Linked DNA regions of Homo sapiens. The protein of the gene in region 3 interacts with the protein of the main gene of each other region in a biochemical or structural test. Each region holds a gene or a part of one and is shown on either strand. Other genes may lie near its edges. The genes, in order: WEE1, PIMREG and BRSK2.

What was found.
Region 1: of the proteins of BRSK2 (region 3) and WEE1, one has a biochemical effect on the other in vitro, tested with the Homo sapiens proteins (one study listed by BioGRID).
Region 2: of the proteins of BRSK2 (region 3) and PIMREG, one has a biochemical effect on the other in vitro, tested with the Homo sapiens proteins (one study listed by BioGRID).

Annotation. Positions count from the first base shown.
Region 1 is NC_000011.10:9,583,595-9,590,514, reverse strand, and holds the end of WEE1 (wee1-like protein kinase), read right to left. Parts: intron 5,258-6,920; coding exon 5,162-5,257; intron 5,074-5,161; coding exon 4,988-5,073; intron 4,067-4,987; coding exon 3,896-4,066; intron 3,805-3,895; coding exon 3,659-3,804; intron 2,067-3,658; coding exon 1,913-2,066; 3' UTR 530-1,912; downstream 1-529. UniProt on the Homo sapiens protein: Acts as a negative regulator of entry into mitosis (G2 to M transition) by protecting the nucleus from cytoplasmically activated cyclin B1-complexed CDK1 before the onset of mitosis by mediating phosphorylation of CDK1 on 'Tyr-15'.
Region 2 is NC_000017.11:6,439,683-6,447,454, reverse strand, and holds the start of PIMREG (protein PIMREG), read right to left. Parts: upstream 3,001-7,772; 5' UTR 2,967-3,000; intron 2,380-2,966; 5' UTR 2,345-2,379; coding exon 2,051-2,344; intron 2,045-2,050; exon of another isoform or gene 1,424-2,044; coding exon of another isoform or gene 1,268-1,423; intron 1-1,267. UniProt on the Homo sapiens protein: During mitosis, may play a role in the control of metaphase-to-anaphase transition.
Region 3 is NC_000011.10:1,455,904-1,463,007, reverse strand, and holds the end of BRSK2 (serine/threonine-protein kinase BRSK2), read right to left. Parts: intron 6,661-7,104; coding exon 6,480-6,660; intron 6,411-6,479; coding exon 6,321-6,410; intron 6,054-6,320; coding exon of another isoform or gene 5,968-6,053; exon of another isoform or gene 5,959-5,967; intron 3,817-5,958; coding exon 3,769-3,816; intron 2,509-3,768; coding exon 2,285-2,508; 3' UTR 2,039-2,284; coding exon of another isoform or gene 2,019-2,038; 3' UTR 319-2,018; downstream 1-318. UniProt on the Homo sapiens protein: Serine/threonine-protein kinase that plays a key role in polarization of neurons and axonogenesis, cell cycle progress and insulin secretion. Phosphorylates CDK16, CDC25C, MAPT/TAU, PAK1 and WEE1.

The DNA.
Region 1 (6,920 bases), 8.1 Mb from region 3:
TTGCACTCAATTCTTTTTTGTTTTTTGTAGAGATAGGGTCTCACTGTGTTGCCCAGGTTGGTCTCAAACTCCTGGCCCCAAGCAATCCTCCTGCCTTGGCCTCCCAAAGTGGTGGGGATTACAGGCGTGAGCCAAGACGCCTGGCCTCAAATCTTAAAACCCAGCCTAGTTTAGTGAGAATTAAAATCCTCCCCACTTTAAGGGCCAGGCGCCTGTAATCCCAGCACTTTGGGAGGCCAAGGCAGGCAGATCACCTGAGGTCAGGAGTTCGAGACCAGCCTGGCCAACTTAGTGAAACCCCGTCTCTACTAAAAATACAAAAAATTAGCTGGGTGTGGTGGTGCATGCCTGCAGTCCCAGCTACACAGGAGGCTGAGGCAGGAGAATCGCTTGATCCCAGGGGGCGGAGGTTGCATTGAGCCGAGATCGCGCCACTGTACTCCAGCCTGGGTAACAGAGCAAGACTCCATCTTAAAAACAAAAACAAAACCTCCCCACTTTAAAGTTTTCTGTGACTCAGTACAAATCAGAAAGTTATGAATCATATTATATTCACTTAATAATTTGAAGATATTTTAAATTACATCATGCTACATTTCTAGCAAGTCACATGCATAACATGCAATGTGATATTCATATTCAATCAAAATGTGCCCTCTGCTTTTATAATAGTACATTATACACACTATACATTTTATAGTATAGCAATAATAGAGATAAAATATTAGAAAACAGGCATCACAAGGATTTAGACAATTAAGGTAAGCTCAGAGTGACTTTTAATATGCCAATCAATGTTAATAAAACACAAGTCAAAGACAAGTGCAAACATGTTTTAGACCAAAATTAATGAGAAAACAAACAGACAATTTTTTTCAACATCTGTTAGCCAGTATTATTAGTCAAATGGCTAATCACAGATAAAATATATTTTGTGAAAAACTTGGAATGTCAGAAGTCATTCTGGCATTTCAAACAGCTATGTACAGTATCACGAAGATCGGTTTATATACACAAATATTGAAGAGAAAAACCGGGCAAAACATTTAAAAACAGACTAATAATACAATCAAGTATAAAACTTAGGGGGAGACATTTAAAAAGAGTCCGGGAAGGACATTACCAGAACAAGTTACAAAACCAGTAATTATTATACTACATTAATACAGCATTCCAAAGGAGGGAAAGGGTGCATTTTTCCAATGCACTAGCTTCAAAGTTCAAAGGAAAAAAAAAAAAAGGCAAATAGCTGCTTTTCATCAAAAGCAGCTATACATTTCACATAATTGTTTCAAAAAGAAGACCTATTAACAACAATGATTGTTTAATGCTACAAGTTTACAGCAAAGACAAAACTAAAATAGCAGCAAATTCACAAGGCAATACCTCCACAGAATCATCATCCCATGGTTCATGCAATGCCTACAAAGTGCTCCCAGTGGGATATACAAGTCTAATTCACAATTAAAAAAAAAAGAAATATAAGATGGACACACAGGTACATTGAAGGCTGAGTAGTAATGAGTCTTTTAGCATGTCCCTTTTCAAAGGGAGGGTATGTCTGTAATAAAGCCCTTGAGTACTTTTTACAGGTCACTACAGGGAAAGACACCTTTTATTACAATGCAACAGCAAACTATAAGCAGCACACCACCACAGTGGTTAACCCTGGAAAGGCTGGTGTAACATCCAACAGTGACACATCCTACAGAAGACAGACTGGTAAGATTAGATGAAAGCCTGACATAGCAATCATCAAAATACAGCTTTCAACTGTAATTCACAATAAAAGTCCTAATCAGTAAAACTACTGACACCAATCGAGAAAGTAATTGCAAACTGGATTCTATCAGTGATTTCAACCTAGCTTCCTCTTGTCACAGTGTTCAGGGGGAGGTGGGAAAGGAGTAGCTCAGTATATAGTAAGGCTGACAGAGCGGTTCATTTTCTTTCCAATAAGTCGAGATGTTCTATTACTCTGGGTGGTGGACCTAGTGGCCATCCGGTCAGTGAAGAGTGCTCTTTCCTCAGCTGCAGCTTTTGCCATCTGTGCTTTCTTGAGTTCTCTGACATAAAAATAGAAAACAAGGTATTATTCCTAGGAAGAGATTCTAAGAAACTAACACAAACTATATTGTCGATTGGGAGATATTTGCATGCCATCATTATTCTAAGATGTAATTGAAAAATAAAACAGGAAACTGAAGCTTCTATTAAAACAACTTAAATTTATGAAATTATTTTATTTTATGCTTTTTGAATTACAGTATCACACATACTTGAAAACAAGTAGTAAAGATGCTAGTAATGACTTTGGTTCTTATAAAATAATTTGAGCTGGATGTGGTGACTCACACCTGTAGTCTCAGCTACTCGGGAAGCTGAGGCTGGAGGATCGCTTGGGCCCAGGAGTTTGAGGCTGCAGTGAGCTATGATAGTGCCACTGCACTCCAGCCTGGGTGACAGAGCAAGACCCCATCTTTTTAAATAAATAATAATAAACAATTTCCAGACAAACCTATCCCCAATAAAAAAAAAATTAAAAATAAATAATAATTTCAAAAACTCCAATTTATATTGCGAATCTATCCTTACATAAGAGAGATGAAAGGAACACTTTATTTCCTATTTGTATGAACTATGATGGATATCAAACTAGTGGCAAGTAAACCTCTTAATATACAATTCTTATAATTTAAATATTAAATGTTAATATTAATTGTTAACATAACCTTTTCAAGTCAGTTTTATTAGGTTAAAAGCAAAATGGCTGCAATAAATCAAAAGAATTAGAAATGTGATCTGTGGTAACTTAATATTCTCCAATATTCTCTTTTTAATAACCTTTACCATTGCAACCAGCTTTTTGAAAATATCAAGTCATTAAGTCCAATATGAGAATCTTCATTCAGTATATAAAGATTTAGCCAGAAATTAAAAACATATATATGAGAATCATCTCCTAACCAAATTGACATTAATTTCATCCTTTCATAAAATAAGAACAGAATGTTTCAAGGACAACGTTAACTTTTGGTGAGAGTCTGGGAAGAAAAGATTGGTATAGGCTCGCTTAGCTTTTACTACCATTTATGGCTTGGGGACTATCACCACTTGCAAATATATGTTAGTCTCAACATTTTTAAAGTTCGTAATTTGAAAGTTTAGAAACAACACAAATTTAATAGGCCAAATACTAATTCATGGCAGAAGTCCCCAAGCTTTCACCGTATAACAACATATCGAACTACTGGAGCCGGGTGAGGTGGCTCACTCCTATAATCCCAGCACTTTGGGAGGCCAAGACAGGTGGATGGTTTGAGCCCAGGAGTTCAAGACCAGCCTGGGCAACATGGCAAAAACCCCATCTCTACAAAAAATATAAAAATTAGCTGGGTGTTGTGGCATGCATCTGTGGCTCAGCTACTCAGGAGGCTGACACGGGAGGATAGCTTGAGCCCAGGAGGTGGAGGTTGCAATGAGTCATGATAGCACCAGTGCACTCCAGCCTGATGACAGTGAGACCCTGTCTCAAAAAACAAAAAACACAAAAAACCACTACATCCTTTGTTGACAGAAAGCTTAAATCATCTCTCATTAAAATTTGAGAATTAAAGTGAATGAAAAAGCAAAAAGAAAACATAAAACCCTCACTTACTTTTGTAAAAGTGAATTTTTGAACTTTTCGGCATTCAATTCTATTCGTAATTGTTCTGCACTCTTTCTAGAAGCGGACAGCAATACTGAATGCTTTACCAGTGCCATTGCTGAAGGTCTTCTCTCTGGATCTGGATGAATCATAACCTTAAAAAGAAAAGTAAAATGAAGGTAAAGACATGCATTTAATAAAATATAGAACCATGTCAATAAAGGGCTTCATATATAAAATGCTCACTTTTAGCAACTCTGTAAATTCTTGGGAAAGCACTTGTGGTATCCGAGGTAATCTACCCTGTCTGATTTCATGCCATTGATCTCCATTTCTCGGAAGAGGTTCAGCACCAGCAGCACATACCACTGTGAGGGCAAGCGCAAAAATATCTGCTTTTGGTAGATGGGTATAATTCTGTAAAATTAAAACAATTTTTTAAAGGAATGTAAACATGGTCAAAATAAAACAAGATTACACCTCAAAGATGACTTAGGTGAAAAATAGGACTTAATCAAAGTGTCTAATACCACATTTAAGTTTGGGACCTATTCAGAGAATAAACTGCTAAATTTGAGGATGTTTATTTTTTAAATTACAAAGTAATACACACTCTTGGGGGAAAAATGCAAACACATAGATAAGAGTAAATGCCTCTTCTTTATCAACAGCCCAATTCAACTCTCAAAAGAAATCCCTCTACCTCTAGGCATTCATATGCAAACACAAAACACGTAGAAACACACTGACAAGTTACAAATACACATATACGTGATAAAGCAAACATATATATACACATATTTACAAAGAGCAATGGGATCAGACAATTACACTTTATATTTTTCTACTTATTCTATTTTCATTCAAAATTTTTATCAAGAAATACTGTCACACTCTTTTGAAACTATAGGCCATACTAATAACTATGTGCCATAATTTACTTAATCATTCTCTTATTAGTAAACACTTATTTACACTGTTCTCAACTTGTATTTGTATATGAATAGTTCTATAGGAAAAACTCCTAGAAGTGAAAATTATGAGTCAATGGGTACATGATTTTTAAATATTAATGCAATACTAATACTCTGATCTCCAAAAAGGATATGCCATTATAAAGTTCCACCAGTGGTGTATGAGAACATATTTTTTACGACAACTCCATTATAAATCTTTGCCTTCATGACTTTTTGCTTATTAAATGCCCTCAGATGACGGTTTAGATTTTATTTCCATTCTATTAGTTAACTTCAAAGTTTAATATATCTGAATTTATATTCTTCTATCAACTGCTAAGTGTTACAAAGCAAACTATGATTAAGGGAGAAGAAAAATTACCTCCTGTAAAACTTCATTTGCAAGAAAACGACTATCGCCCTCTTCAACTTGTGGACTGGAGATCCTTGTTACATGCCCAAGATCACCTAGAAGTATTGAAAAACTTACAGTGAAGAGCAAAAACAAAACAGCCTTCTCTTTATCTGAAGGTAATAATCTGATTACCTTTCTTACCTATTTTAAACATAACTTTGTTGGATGCCCAATCATCTTCGTCTCCTTCTTCAGAGGCAGCATTTGGGATTGAGGTTCGAGATATGAAAATATTACCTGTCAAACAGTTAATTATGTAAGCCAAACTAATAATAATAAAACCAGAGTTCATAAACAAGATCATATACCAGAATCATCCATAATGCTTTTTAAAATGCCGATTCTCAAGTTCTAGCCCAAACCCATGGAATAAGCATCTCAGGGGACAGAAACCAGGGTTATAGTTGCTGGGAATTTTTTTTGTTTTTTTTTGAGACAGTGTGCTCTGTCACCCAAGCTGGAGTGCAGTGGCATGATCTTGGCTCACTGCAACAAGGTTCAAGCAATTCTCATGCTTCATTCAACCTCCTGAGTAGCTGGGACTACAGGCACATGCCACATCTAGCTAACTTTTATATTTTTAGTAGAGACGGGGTTTCACTATGTTGGCCAGGCTGATCAAACTCCTGGCCTCAAGTGATCCTCCAGCTTCAGCCTCCCAAAGTGCTGGGATTACAGGCATGAGCCACCACTCTGGGCCTCTGGGAATATATTTTCCAGCCTAGCACTGATCCTAAACACTTTAAACTGGATGAGGCCCTTGTCTTCTAGCACATTACCCTTCAGCAAAAAAGGTAGTATCAGTAATTTGTGAAATTCTGTGAAAGCACAAGTTTTAATGTAGCGCTATAAGGCTGGTGTGAGCAGAATGAGTCATTTAGCCAGTGAGTCTGGCTGACCATATAGCATCTACCTTGCAATATGGCTTTGTGATTCACTATTTCCTATTGTATACACATTACCTTTTTTCTTCAAATTCAGGTAAGATCATAATTAACATGAGCTTTTAGTGGCAGATTCTATTTTAATAGTTTTATCAGTATAGTATTGGCCAGGTATGGTGGCTCAAGCCTGTAATCCCAGTGCTTTGAAAGGCTGAGGTAGGAGGATTACCTAAGACTTGGAATTCGAGACCAGCCTGGGCAAGATAGTGAGACCCTGTCTCTACAAAAAGAAAAAGAAAAAAATTAAAATAGCTGGGAATGGTGGTGCATGCCTGTAGTCCCAGCTACTTGTGAGTCTGAGGCAGGAGGTTCATTTGAGCCCAGGAATTCAAAGCTGCAGTGAGCTATAATTGCACCACTGCATTCTAGCCTGGGCAACAGAGTGAGACTATCTCTAAAAAATAAGGCCGGGAGTGGTGGCTCACACCTGTAATCCCAGCACTTTGGGAGGCCAAGGTGGGCGGATCACTTGAGGTCAGAAGTTCAAGACCAGCATGGCCAGCATGACAAAACCCCATCTCTACTAAAAATACAAAAATTAACTAGGCATGGTGGTGCACGCCTGTAATACCAGCCACTAGGGAGGCTGAGGCAGGAGAATCGCTTGAACCCAGGAGGCAGAGGTTGCAGTGAGCCGAGATCGCACTACTGCACTCCAGCCTGGGCAACAGAGCAAGACCCTGTCTCAAAAGAAAAAAAAAAGTATATATATATATATATATATATATATATATATATATATATATATGTGTGTGTGTGTGTGTGTGTGTGTGTGTGTGTGTGTGTGTGCGCGCGCGTGCACGCACACACACGCACAAATATTTAGTATTAAATTTATGTTACATTTACTGGAGTCATCTATACGTTTTACTTTCTTTATAGGACAACTTATTTTGTGATGGTATTTGTAAATTGGAAGGTTTTTTTTTTTTTTTTTTGAGACAGTCTCGCTCTGT
Region 2 (7,772 bases), on a different chromosome or scaffold from region 3:
GGCAAATGGAAAGGTTAGCACAGACAAAACCAAAAGTTAGGCCGGGCGCGGTGGCTCACGCCTATAATCCCAGTACTTTGGGAGGCCGAGGCAGGCAGATCACCTGAGGTCAGGATTTTGAGACCAGCCTGGCCAACATGGTGTAACCCCATTTCTACTAAAAATGCAAAAAAAAATTAGCCAGGCGCGGTGGCGGGTGCCTGTAATCCCAGCTACTTGGGTGGCTGAGGCATGAGAGTCGCTTGAACCCGGGAGGCGGAGGTTGCAGTGAGCCGAGATCGCACCATGGCACTCCAGCCTGGGCGACAGAGTGAGACCCTGTCTCGAAAACAAACAAACAACAACAAAAAAAAAAACCAAGGGTGAGCTACCTTGGTCTCCAGACCATACAAGCAACCCCTACACTCAGCAAGTGTCCTGTAAATACAGGCTATTGTTAGTCTCCAGGGTGAAGGATGTGAATGACTCCTCATGGAATGAGTCCACGGCTGGGACCCAGCTCAGAGCTCTTGGATATGACAGCAGCAGTCAGCCGCAGGAGGACCCCCCTGGTGCCTGGAGCCTGTTTGTCTAAGTCCAAACTCTCTTTCCAGACAGACGGTGACCCCAGGACTGAAGGAGAGGGCCCCAAAAGAACAGGCCACCCCGCCCAGCACCCCCTGTACACCAAGAGAGCACCTGTCTTCTTGCCTCGGGTCTCACTCACTCTATCCACCCTCCACAGTGGTCCATAGTGATCCTTCTAAAGGGCAGTTCTGACCGTGACACTCAACTGCTCAAAACTCTTCTGTGGCTTCTTGTTGCCCATAGGACCAAGCCCCAACTCTTGGGCCTTTCACACCAGCCGGGTGACAGCCGTGAAGGCTCTTCTTCATCAGCTAGACTGTCTTTGCCTTGACAAGCCAGAGCCCAGTGTTTGGAGCGAAGCCCAAGTTAAATTTGATGAGTTATGTGACCTTGGACAAATTCATTTCATTTCTCTGATCCCTGAGGGTGGTGAAAACAATCAAAAAGTGCTTCCAAATAAGGACTAACATTTGGCTCAGAGAGCTCTCTGCAGAGGGTCCAGAAAGAGCCACCCACTTTCTGGAGAATTCTTTCATCTTCAGAATTCCCAATGAGACACCGAGGAGAAGCCTCTGCAGCCCCCAATCCTCTCCCTGGAGGTCTGTTCATCCTAATGGCTTCTGTCCTTTCTAAGTGACACGTCTACACCTCCAGCTCTGGGTTTAAAGATGCATCCCTTGAAGGGTCCACAGACACTTACATCCAATATAAGGACGTCTTCCTGACAGCAGCTCTCATTTGACAGCAAATCCCCTCTAACTGGACCTTCTCGGCAGCTCCTGAAGTTTATCCCCTGCAAGTCCAAACCCTTAGTCTCCATCAGGAGCATCTCTGCCTCTATTCCCTTCTCCATCATGTAGCTAAAGGGCAAATTCTAATATGCTAATTAGACCAGACTTTCCACTGTTTAGAATCTTCCGGACTCCTGATCATTCCTGGGAGAGTTCTAAGCTCCTTCATATCCTTTCCCCCTGCTCTACCTTGCTCTCTGTCATCTGTTCATACCCAGACTACAATTCTGGCTCTCCTCAGGGATACACAGCTGAGTGGGCAGTACACCTTGCTTTCCCTCAGCTCTAGGCCTGGACTTGCACTATTTCCCCTACCCTAAATACCCCTTGACCTTTGCTTCCCTGGGTGAACTCTGGAATCACCTCCTCTGGGAAGCCTTCACCGACTAAGCTTGCATTTGGTGAGCCTCACTATTGGTCACTTGCTTTGCAATTTCCTATCACGTACAGCTCTTATCACCTGGTATTGTGAGCATCTGTTTCCTCCAAGACATGCTTTCATTCACTCATTCAACTATTTGTTGAGCACCTATATGTGCCAGGAACTATCTGGGGTGGTGGGGAAACAGCAGTGAACTAACCAACGTCCCTGTTTTCATGAAGTCTATATTCTTGAGGCTCTTTGAGGGCAGGAACTGCCTGGCACCAAGGAAACACTCCATAAAAAAGATGATTAGTGTTGTCAGTATTACCTGGGACACGGCACCCAAAGCACTCTTAGCTGAGCGAGCTGCAGCCTGGAGGCCCTGCTGACCTGGCTCTGGGGTTTCCAGGCGTTTCCAGGAGGGCCCTGCGCGGAGGTTGAGGTTGACGGCTCTCAGGGGCAGCCTCCTTTGGAACTGTCTGCACAGGGACCCCAGGGCCCCTACAGAGGTCTCCTGATGGCTGACCACAGGCTGCAGCTCCTTGCTGTCCTCCAGCTGCTCCTGGTGCTGGAGAGATCTCCGGCGCACGGAGGTCCCCATGTTCTGCCACCGAGAAGCCATCTGCCTGGCCAAGAGTCTTCTCTGTCCACTAGACCCTGGGGAGGAGGGCGAAAGGCAGATCAGCAAGGCATTCCCCATACCCATTCCCAGGCCCCACAGAGACCCTGGACACAGGGGAAGAGACGGGATGCAGCGGGGTGGCGGGGGCGGGCGAGTTGGTAAGTGTGGGTGCAGGAAGGAGGATGCTTCCTGGAAGAGGGGCCTCGGGTCAGCAGCATTTCTGATGTCCCGCCCTTCAAGTTTCCAAAACAGCTGTCTTTTCATCCCAACCTCCTTCCTCTCTCTGGCTCAGGCGAGGAGGGGAGGCAGGGTCAAGACACGCCGTAGCCGAGCTTCAGCGCTGGGCCCAGGACACGATCACCATCTTCTTCACCAGCTCGCCCAGACCAAACGCGCACCCGCCCAGACCCCGGCCTTCCCACCAGACGCCCCGATTTCGATCCGACTTCTTGTGGTACCCAGACGACCCCACAGGCCGTGCGTGTCCGAACCTGATGCCCTCCCCTGTGAACAGAACCTGATGCCCTCCCCTCCGAACAAAAAAATTGTTTTGAGTCCAGATCGCGCCATTGCACTCCAGCCTGGGCAACAAGGGCGAAACTTGTGCCCAGCCCGCACTCACCCGACACCACTAAGGCCGAGCACAGCCGCAGCACAGCTGCTCCTCGCCCACCGCAGCCGATTTGAAACTCTGCGCGGCTCCGCCCCCGGCCCCGTCCTCACAGCTGATTGGTTCCGTCCCCGCCCCCGCCACCGCCACCGCCCCGGGGATCCGATTGGCTCCCTCTCTCGCGGCTGCAAATGCTGCGCTTGGATTGGCCCGGCCGTGCCCATTCATCGCTCCGGCCCCCGCCCCGCCGCCAGCCTCGTGGCTCCGGGCTTTGTATCCTGCGTCCCGCTCGCGCCACTGCCCTTGCTAGCCCAGCCCCCGCGCATCGCACACCGGGTCCCCTCCCTGGAGCGCGCACAGGGTTCAGGCTGCTCTGACCCATGGGGTGGAGGCGGAGGTCCTGGGACCTAGGCCTCCTGGCTCAGGCCCCAGGCCCCAGGCCCGGCAGCGGGCAGAGACCCCTCTCATCCTGCCAAGGGGTCTGGCTTTTCCTTCTTGCTCAGTGGTTTTGTCAGAAGGAGCCAGGGACTGGCAGTGCAGAGCCCTGGGTTCCCAGAGACGTTTTCTTTCAAATTTCCCTCCTGACCCTCCCTTCCTGTGACAAGACACTGTCCCTCTCTGAGTTCCCCATACTCGCCATCCACGCTCCGCCCTCCCTAGAAAACGCGTCCCGGAAGCGGGGATAGACCAGAGTACCGGTCTGCCCTCCACCCGTCTACACCGGCTCCCCGCCCCCGCCTTGCCCCACGCATCCCTCCCTCTCTCCAGCGGAATGCCTGCCTCTCTTCTCCTTAGCATCCAAACAAATGCAGCCATTATAAAGCTCTCTCCAGCTCATCTTTCTCCTTTCGGTGACCTCAGAGCAGTGCTGCCCACTCCCCCGGCTGGTTTCTTTGTTACTTCTCCGCACAAGAGCCTGAGATGATGGCTTCTTGAGACTCTGTCTTCAGCCCTCTCCGTTTCTGGGTGGTCTCACCCACTCCTTTGGCCTCAGTGATTTCCAAGGAAAGGATGATGATAATGATTAACGTGTATATGGCACTTAGTATGCACAGGTACCGGTGTTGCAGTTTATTAACTTACTTGATCCTCTGCTATGGTTTGAATGTGTCCCTCAAATTTCACATGTTGGAAATGTAATGCCCAAATTCATATATCGGTGGCATTTTTTGTTTGTTTTTGAGACGGAATTTCACTCTTGTTGCCCAGGCTGGAGTGCAATGGCATGATCTCGGCTCACTGCAACCTCCGCCTCCCAGGTTCAAGCGATTCTCCTGCCTCAGCCTCCCTAGTAGCTGGGATTACAGGTGCCTGCCACCACGCCTAGCTAATTTTTTGTATTTTTAGTAGAGATGGGGTTTCACTATGTTGGCCAGGCTGGTCTCGAACTCCTGACCTTAGGCAATCCACCCGCCTCAGCCTCCCAAACTGCTGGGATTACAGACGTGAGCCACCGTTCCTGGCTATCGGTGGCATTTTTTAAGACATATAAATTGTTATTTATTCAAATTATAGAATATTATACAGCACTGAAAAATAAGCAAATTGTAGCCAGATGGTGTAACTTAAGTCAATCTCAGAAATATGTTAGATTAAAAAAAAGCAATATGCAGACAAACATAAAGTATGACACTGTATAAATTCAAACGCAAAAAAGCTCAACAATATGGTTTAGGAATATGCACATACATTTGTGGACAAAGCTATTATGGAAAGCAAAGGAATTGAAACACCAAAATAAAATAAGTCGTCGTTTTTGGAAGGGTGGCAGGAGAAGAGGATGTAATGAGGAAAGGGCTCAAAGGACTTCAAAGATAATGTTCCATTTTGTAGGCTGGGTGGTGGCCACATGGATGTTTACTTTCTTCTTTTTTATTTTTTTTCTTTTAGACAGGATCTTGCTCTGTTGTCCAGGCTGAGGTGCAGTGGTACAATCATAGCTCACTGCAGTCTCAACCTCCTGGGCTCAAGCAGTCCTCCTGCCTTGACCTCCCAGAGTGCTGGGATTACAAGCGTGAGCCACCTTGCCTAGTCTTTATTATTCTTTAAACCATATATGTAAGTAATTTTATACGTATCACTTTATAAATGCGTGTGTATACACATACCTGTACATATATTATTTTCTAAGTATGAGCTACTTTGTAATTTTCTTTAAAATTTTTTTTAAAATTGACAAGTAATAATTAAACATTTATGGGGCACATAGTGATGTTTTGATACATATAATGTAGAGTGATCAGATCTGGGTAATTGGCATATTCATCATCTCAAACATTATCGTTTTTCTGTGTTGGTAAGAGTCAATATCTTCCTTCTAGTTATTCGAAACTATATATTATTGTTCACTCTAGTCATTCCACAGTGCTATAGAATACTAAGCTTATTACTCCTATTTAGCTGTAACTTTGTGTCTTTTAACAAATCTCTCCTATTCCTTCCTTGCACCTACCATTCCCAACGTCCAGTATGTTGATGAGGTGAGGCCTTTGGGAGGTAATTAGCATTAGATAAGATCAAACAGATGGGGCCCCCATGATGGTACTGGTGGCTTTAAAAGAAGGGGAAGAGAGACCCGAGCTGACAGGCACGCTTTTGCCCTCTCACCATGCGATGCCTTCTGCCATGTTACAACACAGCAAGAAGGCCCTTACCAGATGCCAACCAGATGCCAGTGCTATGCTCTTGAACTTCCCATCCTCCAGACCATGAGCTAAGTGTCTTTTCTTTATAAATTATGCAGTCTGTGGTATTCAGATATAACAACAGAAAACGGACTGACATCTTCATTGTACCTACACTTGATGAGGAAGCTGAGAATACAGAATTTGGTAGGGCCCAAATTTCACTCAGTTAGTCTACACCAGGGCCAAGGGTTCAAACTTCATCAGTCTAGGGCTAGGGTCCCTGTGCCTAACCACCACACCACACTGCCTTCCTCAGCCCCTAACACCTCCACCCCCAGCTTGAGCCTCTCATCTGACATGTATAGCCAACTACCTCCTGGGTCTCATCTCCTCTTGAATGCTGCAGGCATCTTAGATAAACACACCCTAGCTGAAGTCACCCTGGTCTCCTCAATCCTCCTCCTCCCCCATATTCCCTCTTGCCTGTGATCCATTAAGCACTGTGCTAAAAAATGGGCCACAAAGGTCAACAAAACAGATACATTCCTTACTGTCATGGAGCTCAAATCTAGTGTGTGGGGAGACATAGACATGAAAGGATCAAATAACCAATAATCAGTTAATCAAAGAACTATGCAAAACTTATGTTATTGAAAGCTGAGACCTAGAGAATGAGTTAACCAGGCAACGAATGTGTGTGTGTGTGTGTGTGTGTGTGTGTGTGTGTGTGTGTGTGTGTGTGATCTTCTTGGCTCAGGGAACACCACGCTTAAGGAACCAGCATTCACTGTAAGAGACCCAGCACACACACACGTGAACTGAAACAAAAGTTTCATGAAACAATACTTGACTATGTGTGATATGACCTGAGATTTTATTTTTTATTTCATTTAAAAAAACCTTGATGGTTACAACCCACTATATTCATTCTACGAGTCACTAATGGAGTATGAGTTGTGGTTTGCAAAATATTGCTCTAGTTTGCCTGTCCATTTTGTTCACAGTGAAGTTGTTTATCAAGAGTCAGAAATGCTTGTTTTCAAACCTGTTTACAACAGTTGCATTTGTTACTGTAATTAAGGAATTTAACTGATGTCTTTTACCAGTGAAATCCAAGGGGGAAAAGAAAAAGTTGTTGTTTCTATGAAAACTAAGATGAAAGTGTGGGAAAGACTCCATGAAGGTGAAACATTTAGAAACAAGCCAAGTCTCTCAAACCGGAGTGTCTTATCACAATAGCCTCCCCAGTGCCTGTCATGTCACAGGCATCCGTAATAATAGCTTATATTTTTTGAGCCCTCACCATGTGTCAGACTCTCTGCTAAGGGCATTTACTTTCTTTATTCTTTTTTAATCCTCAAGCAATTCTATGAAGTAGGTACGTTTTTTATTTCCATTACAGATGACAAAAGTGAGATGCAGACAGGTGAAATATCTGGTCCAAGATTGTATGGGATGTCAGAACTGGAGCTTAAATCCAGTGACTGACTTCAAAGCCTGAATTCTTACCCTTAGATTACACAACTTTGTTAAGATCAGGGGTGAAACAATGAATGCATGCATGCATAAAGAGGCCCTCCCTGCTTGGAGCTTTCCACCATCTTCCCTCACTCAGAATGGTAACTGGCAGGCCAGGTTAATGAAGAACAGTCTCCATGGCAACAAGTAAAGGGGGAAGAAACATTTTCTTATGAATGGGAAGCCTTTCCCTTTTGCCTTGCGTGGAGTGGTGGCTGGAGGGAGGGAAGGAGGCTGTACTCAGGGGAAGGAGGCTCCTAGTCCAGAGGTCGGTACATTGGCTTCTGTTCTTGGTAAGGAGGAAAAACCAGTCACTTTTTCCTAGCAGAGGCTTTTGGAGGGGGAGGGAATCCAGCATCACCCTTGCCTCCGTTGGGGAGGGGGACAAACGAGGAGCTCCAGCCCTGCTCTCCAGGGGCTCTTTGTCCAAGAGCAAACATTCCACTAGTTTCCTTGACCTCCTGAAACTGTCAATCTGATGGAAGACATAGACATTAAACACATCATTGTAAACAATTACAATGGGGCAAAATAGCATGAATGTGCAGTGCTAGGGAGAAGTGACAGGGTATAAGGGGCATGGGGAGATTGACAGGAGCTGGAGGTCAGGGTAGTCTTCCCTGAATGTGTGGTGTTTGAAGTGAGGAGCTAGTGGGCCAGTGGTTGGGAGTCT
Region 3 (7,104 bases):
CTCCAGGAAAAGGCCCAGGCCCTGGGTGGCCGTGCAGGCCTTGTGGGGTGGCAGAGGTGCCGTGCAAAGAGAGCTCCGCCCAGGCCCTGGCCCTCAACGGGAGCCCGCCTCAGGCTGGGGCAGCCTCGGGGGATGGCCCCACACATCGGAAGTGACCTCTGACCTTGGCCGCCCGGAATCTCACCCTCTTCAGCTGGGCAGAGGGTAGCTGCATTCACACTGGCGCAGCCCAGGGGCTGCAAGTGGGGAACAAGAAGCTGTCCCGGGCTGTCACAGAGCCCTGCGCGCCCGCCCTGCCCAGATGAAGACCTGCGTCGCTGTCTTTGCGGAAGGGATTTATTGTTCCGGAGCTGCAGCTGCTCACAGTTATGACAGGGGTACACTGCAGGGGCTTGCCCATTTCCGTGGCGCCTGCTGGAGTCCGCGTGTGTCCGAAGCACAAAAGGGGAAGGCAAGCAAGAGGCAGTTTGCTTCGTGTCCTCGATCTCCGTGGAGAGCCCCTTCCCGCCTGTACCGCCTGGCGTTTGCTGTCCTAGGTGTTTGCTTTTGTTCTTATGTATAGAAATCCCAGCCTGTGGCAGAGGTCTAATGTTAACAGAAGCGTTAAAATCTATACACGAGGTGGGTGGGAGGCAGGGGCAGGCACCGAAGCAGACAGACGACTCCATGGCAGAGGCATGCATCAGACCCGCCGTCCCCCACGGCCGCCGCACCCGGGCTGTGCCCGCCTGGGAGGGCTGGGCACATGGGCGGAAGGGAACACAGAAGCTGGAGCTGGGGTGAAGCACGGCGGCGGGCACTGGGCAGGGTGGGCCTGCAGCCCTCTGAGGGCTGCGCCCTGGGCCTCGCTCTGCACAGAACGCCCTGCAGAGGAGCGCCACCGACTCTTTGTCCTTTTTTTTCAATTTTTTCATTTTAATAAGAAAAGCCTCACAGTGCCCCTGCCGTCCTGTGTGTGGGGAGGGCCAGCTGAGGGCCCTCCTCCTACCCCTTCACCTTTGGACACAAAACCAAGATTGCCCCAGCCTGACAGAGGGGCGCTGGCGCTGCCGCCCGCTACAAGACACCGCCCCTCTGCCCCGAGCCCCCCCAGAGGTGGAGCTGCTTCTCCACAGAGAGACGGAACCCATGACAGAGCGAGCCGCACCGTCTTTAGATGTGTGTGTAGAAAGAAGCAGGAGCAAGGGACTAAAACACAAAACCTGGCCCTGCCCCAGCGGCGCCCCCACCCCCACACCCTTTTCCAAAAACCACCAAGAAAAAAAAGTTTATAAAAATATCTTGCAGGAATTCTTTAAAGTTTACAGTAGCTCGCCAGCCCCCCCGCGCCCCACCAGCTCTGTCCTCAGAGGGCGCCCTGGCCCCAGCCCCCCCACTGCCTGAGACACGCAGACGGCAGGGGATGTGGCCGCCGCCCTTCCCTGAACAGAGGTGCGGAGAATCCATAAATTAAAACGGCAAATAAATAACACTGATCCCAGCCCAGCGGCCTGGCCTGCTGGGAAGGCTCTGGTGCCGCAGGGTGTCTCTGTTTCCACCTCAGCCAGAGAGGAGCGCCAGAGCCCACAGCCGCCCCAGATGAGGCAAGGGAGGCGCGGGTGAGACGAGAGGACGGGAGGCAGCCTGAGGAGGCCAAGACTACACGGAGGCGGCGCAGCCAGGGAGGCGGGGCACGGGCCTGCGAGGAGGCCTCCAGGTGCGGCGTGGAGGCGGTGGACGGGGCCTGTTCCTGTGGCTACGTTGCCCACCAGGGGTCCTGGCCCCAGAAGGCCACCAGGCAGGCTGTTCTTGCTGAGGGGTCAGGTGACCGGGAGTCCGGGTCGGCCGGGCTGGAGGAGGCTCCCCCGAGCCTGGCCTTCCTCCCACGGGCCGTGCGGAGCTGAGGCGAGGAGCTGCCGCGGGGTGGACGGGGCGCTGGGCTGGGCCTCACTGCCCGGCAGCAACAGCAGGAGCGGAGGGAGGGCGGGTCCGCAGCAGCTGCCTTCGGTCACAGAGGATGGCCTCGTGGAGGTGACATGTTAACTTTTCGGGATAATTCCTGGTATCAGAGTGGAAACAAGCGATGCTGTCAGAGACAGGCAGAGGCAGAGACAGAGAGAAAAGAGAGCGGGCGCGGGTGGCGCAGCCCACAGGCCGGCCCCAACGCCCCTTTCCTTTCCTCCCAGGCTCTGAGAACAGTCTGGACGGACGGGCGGCGCGGCCGCGGGTCCACTCGGGGCAGGGCGGGCGGCGGGCGGCGAGGCAGCCGCTGTCAGTGCTGTGCTGGGGGGGGGGGCTAGTGTGTCTAAGGCTGCTCGCGGCGGGCGGTGGGCGGGCCCATCTTGGCCGTGTCCTTGCCCGTTGGGTACTCGGCGTCCCCTCCGGGGCCAGGGCCAGCGGCCGCGGAGTCACCGAGTGGGCCGTGGGCACTCCGCTTGGCGGGCGTGCTGGGGGCCTGGGCCGCCTGCCCGTTCTTCTCGTCTGAAAAAAGTTGTTTAATTACGTCAAAGAAGTTACTCAATGGGCTGCCTGGGTACACAGAACAGAGACAAAAAAAAAAAAAAAAAGGAAAAAAGAAAAAAAAGGGGGAGAGAAAGAGGAGGGGAGGGAAGGAGAGAGAAAGAGAACAAACAAACAAATGAACGAAGAGGCCTCGACGAGGGAAAGAACCCAGAGATGAGGCTGAGATGGGGCCGAGCGGGGACCGGTGGGCGGCAAGCAGGGTGGGCAGGCGGCGGCCGGCAGGGGCCCTGTACGCTGGGGGCTGTGCGGTGGGGAAGCTGTGCGCCGTGGGGCCAGGAACTTAGGACCCCAGCGCCTCCGAGCTGTTGCGCAGGACCCAGTGCTCCTTTGGCGAAGCGAGGCTCGGGGCAGGTGGTGAGACCCCTCCCTCCCCACCAAGGCCTGGCCCGGAAGGCCCTGCCCCACCCCCCTTCCCTCCCCACCTTGCAGCCGTGAGGGCCGACCCACCCCAACGCCGGAGATGACAGCGTAAAGACAAGGGCCTGCTGGGAGCTCTGAAGCCTCGCAGGACCCTGGGGGCAGCTGCTGGCCCCACTGCATGAGGCCCAGTGGATGACAGGGAGAGGGTGTGCCCACCACACCTCCCCAGAGAGGCCTGAAGCCCGACCCCTGGCCAGCTTGGACACAGTTTAGCAGCAGACAGACAGATGAACAGATGGGTGGACAAGCATGGAGGGGTGGATGTGGGAGGCAGGCTGGGGGGCTGGGGGCAAGCAGCTAGAGTCATGTCCCGGGTCCCTGGGATGGGGGCAGTCCTGAGAAGAGGGGCGGAAATGGGGAGCCCACCCTTCTTGGGGCCCTGTGCTCACTGCCCAGGTGTGTCGATGGAGGCCCCTCAATCCCACTTCCTAAGCCTAACCCCCACCTGAGCCCTGAGCTGTGGGCCCCTCCGCTCCCTGCCAGGCACAGCCTCCAGTGGACAGAGGGATGGGCACCGGCCCCTCCCCTAGGCCACAGCCTGCACCAGTGGGACCAGCGGGACCCTCACTGGCTTCAGGCCTTGGGAGCCCCTTCTTGGGCCTGCCCTGATCCTAGGGCCTGGCAGAGGTGAGTCTGGCCAGGAACCCCGCCTGGGCTTGCTGTGGTAGGGGAGCGACCTGGGCTGCTCCTGGTAGAGGATGGGGCCGGGGACATCTGGGCTGCTGGGTGCCTACATCTACACAGGGAGGCCGGGACAACCCGGGCGGCAGGTGGCGGCCACAGCGGGCTGAGGGTGAGCGGTGAAGTGGCAGGTGGAGGTGCCAGGTGAGCGTGGGGGATTCTTACCACATTTGGAAAGCCGCCCCGTCATCATTTCCATACAGTTAGTGGTGTCTGGAGTACAGAATGGAGAGAGGAGGGAGGGAGTGAGTGAAAGGCTGTCCTGGGCCTTCTGGCTGGACGCCCACAGCCTCGATGGGGAGGGGGTGGAGCCAGGAGTGGGTAGGGCCCCAGAGGCATGGGTGGGGAATACTGGGGGGGCCAGAGCCAGAGGGGGCGGGGCTTATAAGGGGCAGTGCAGGGGCAGGGCCTGGAGTGAGGCGGGGCTGCGGAGGCAGGGAACAAGGCGGAGCCACCTGGGCAGCAGCCGGACCTCCAGCAGCCTGAGCCTGAGCCTGGATATGGCCGGTGCCCTGGGTGGGCCTAGCCCCTCCCCTGGGCTGACAACTCTGCCCTGGCCGTGGCCTGCATCCTCACTGTGCCACTCAGCAGCTCCAGGGCCCTGTGGCTTCCGGCTGCCCTTCAACTCAAGGCAGGCACCCTCTTCCTCGGCCCTCTTCCCTACTGCTGGGCCTGGGGATGTTGGTGCTGCCAGTCCAGGACTGGGGTGGGAGCAAGGCCCTGGGAGGGGCTACTCCCTCAAGGCCCTCACTGGCGCCTGCACAGGGTGGACACACGCCCTGGTCTGCCTGTGCCTGCTCACTGGGGGCTCTCAGCCTCCCCTCCCTCGGCCGCAGTCTCTGGGGGGGTGGGCAGTGTCTGAGGAGGCCCCCTGCTGGCTAGCCACCTTCCACACATCCTTGGAGCTGGGCTCACTGGACAAAAGCATCCAGTGTGGGAGGGGGGCAGGGCTGGGAAGGGCTGGGCGTAGCGAGATCACGGGGATAGGCTGGGCTCCCCAAGTCCACAGGGAGATAGATGGGGCCCAGAATAGACCCCCAAGAGCCTCTGCAGTGGGCTCCACTGAGGTCAGGGTCCGGGGCAGGAATGGAGAGGGGCTTGGAGTTGGCTCCAGGGGAGTGCTGCGTGCTGACAGGCGGTACCACACTTTAAGGGGCCAGGCTGGGGGAGCTTTGCCTACAGCCCACGCAGGAGCGCTCGACTGAGGCACCCAGATGGCTGCTCAGGTGCGGGGACACCCTGGGCAGTACCCCGGGGCCCGTTTCTGCTTGCCCTACCAGACAAGCCCTGTCCATCCCTGGCCTAGGTGGCTGCCCTGTCGTTCCCTGGCCTCGGTTTCCCTTCCTAAGATGAAGGCTTTCAAGGCTCAGAGAGCCAGAGGCTGCTGCCGGCCGACGGCATGGCCTCCGCTGTAGGGAAGCGCCACGTGTACCTGCGGGGCCGAGCACCTGGAACCCTGCTCCTCCTTACCCGCTGTGCCAGCCTGGCTCCCAAAATCAGGAGAAGGGGGCTACTCCTCCACCCACTGGGGCTTCGGTTAGGGCCAGGGCTGTTGGGGACCTCAGCCCCCAGCCCGCAGCAAGGTGAAGCACACTCTGGGGGGGCTCCCACAGGTGATGGCATGATGATGGAATGAGGATGTCATGGGGAGGGGCAGTGGGGCCCTCTTTGGCTTCCAGGACCCCACATGGAAACACAGGAGGTGACCCTAGCATGCCACGGAGCTGCTGAGATGCAGGCTGGGAGAGGGGACCCCCAGGGTCCAGCCGGGTGCTCCCCCACGACGCCCAGCGCCCCCACGCCGTACCAGCGTTCAGAGGCACACCCACACCCCCTTGCTGACAGACCAGGCCCATGCATGTGCCCAGTGCTCCGCCCTGCCCCCACCACACATGGGCCCAGGGGAGTGGGGGGAGCCCTCCCTGCCGTATGCCGAGTGGCACGGACCCTCGGGTCCTAGACCCTGGTGGTTCCAGGCTGGGGCAACCCTCCCCTGTGTGAGCCCATCAGGCTGTGGTGAAGCCCCCGCTCTGGCTGGGCTCAAGCCCCTCTGCCCTGCTGGAGGCATGACCCTGGGCTGTCAGGAAGTATGGAGAGATGAGAAGTCACAGCCCGTCAGGCAGCCCGCGGCCCTCCTAGGGTGCCATGGCGGGGAGTCCCGAGGGCAGGGCCTTGTCACTGCTCTCCCAGGTCCTGTGCAGGCTGCCCTAGCAGATGGGCCGCCCGGGGCATGCTTGGCCTGTCCAGGGCCGAGACCTGTGGGTGGGCATGGAGGGCCCTGCTCAGGGCCAGCCTGGCTCCGCCGAGGACCTGCCCGCAGCCCCTCCCCGCCCCAGCACAGGCCGGGCGCCTTACCTGCCAGCGTCAGAGGCTACTCTCGTAGCTGGTGGCCACCTTCTGGCCCTTAAGCCCAGCACCCCAGCTTAGTCCTGGCGCTGGTGGGGGGGGTTCTACGGTGGACAAGAGGCGCCTTTCAGTGTGGTGCGGCTGCGCCCTATGTCCCTGGCGTGCAGAGGCGAGGCGGGTGGTCCCGCCAGGCCAGGGAGGGGCTCTGCTCCCTGAGGGGTGCAGCCACAGCTCGGGGCAGGGAGGTGGGGGCGTCCGTCAAGAGGGGCCAGGAGGCTGCGCCCGGGTCCTCACGCCTCCCGTCCGCGCAGCACCAGCTGGCCACGCCCCACTCGCAGGCCGCAGGTTGGCCGGAGCTGAGCCCGCCTCACCTGACAAGTGCTGGGCCGCAGGCGGGTCGTGTGTGCTCAGCAGCTGGGCCTGGATGGTCTCCACCACCCTCTTGAAGCGACGGCTGGGGCCTAGGGGAGACAGGGGGTTATGCCCTGGACGGGCCTGGGCCCGGAGCCGCCCTGGGGGCGCCAGCTCACCTGAGAGCAGGGTGAAGGTGACGGAGTAGATGCCGTTCTCCTTCTGCGCCTCCCCACCCTCCGTGTAGGTGATATCAACCTGGAACTTGACCGGCTTCTGGAACACGGCTGGCCCCCCCGTGGCCTTGTACTCGGCCCGGAAGCTCGTTTGGGAGATGACGCTGTGGCTGAGACTGGGAATCTGTGGAGAGAGAGCAGCGTGAGCGTGGCTGGCCTGGCAGGTCCCACCCTGGCCCTCTGGGGAGGCAGCCCTGGGGCGAGCCAGCCCCACCGTGCACACATTGTGAGCACCCAGGCACCTCTGCTTCCGTGAGGGGCACAGTGCGGTTGGAGACGGCTGGAGCAGGGGGAGGGGCGTTTCCAGCCCCCACCCTCCAAAGCTTTGGTCCACTTAGCGGGCACAGCTAAGCCCCTGCCGGGCTTTTCTCAGGCAGCCACAGCACAGGATGACCAGGACCTTACAGAGGAGCCTTAAGGGCAAAGATGGAGGTGGAAGGTGACCCCTGCAGCCTGAGGTGGGGGTCCAGGGTGGAGCTGAGTGGGAGGTGGGGGGTCTGGGAGCTGCCACTGAGAGGGAGGTGCAAGGGCGGGGCTGGGGCTGTGCCCTCCTGCTGGGGCTTCCTGG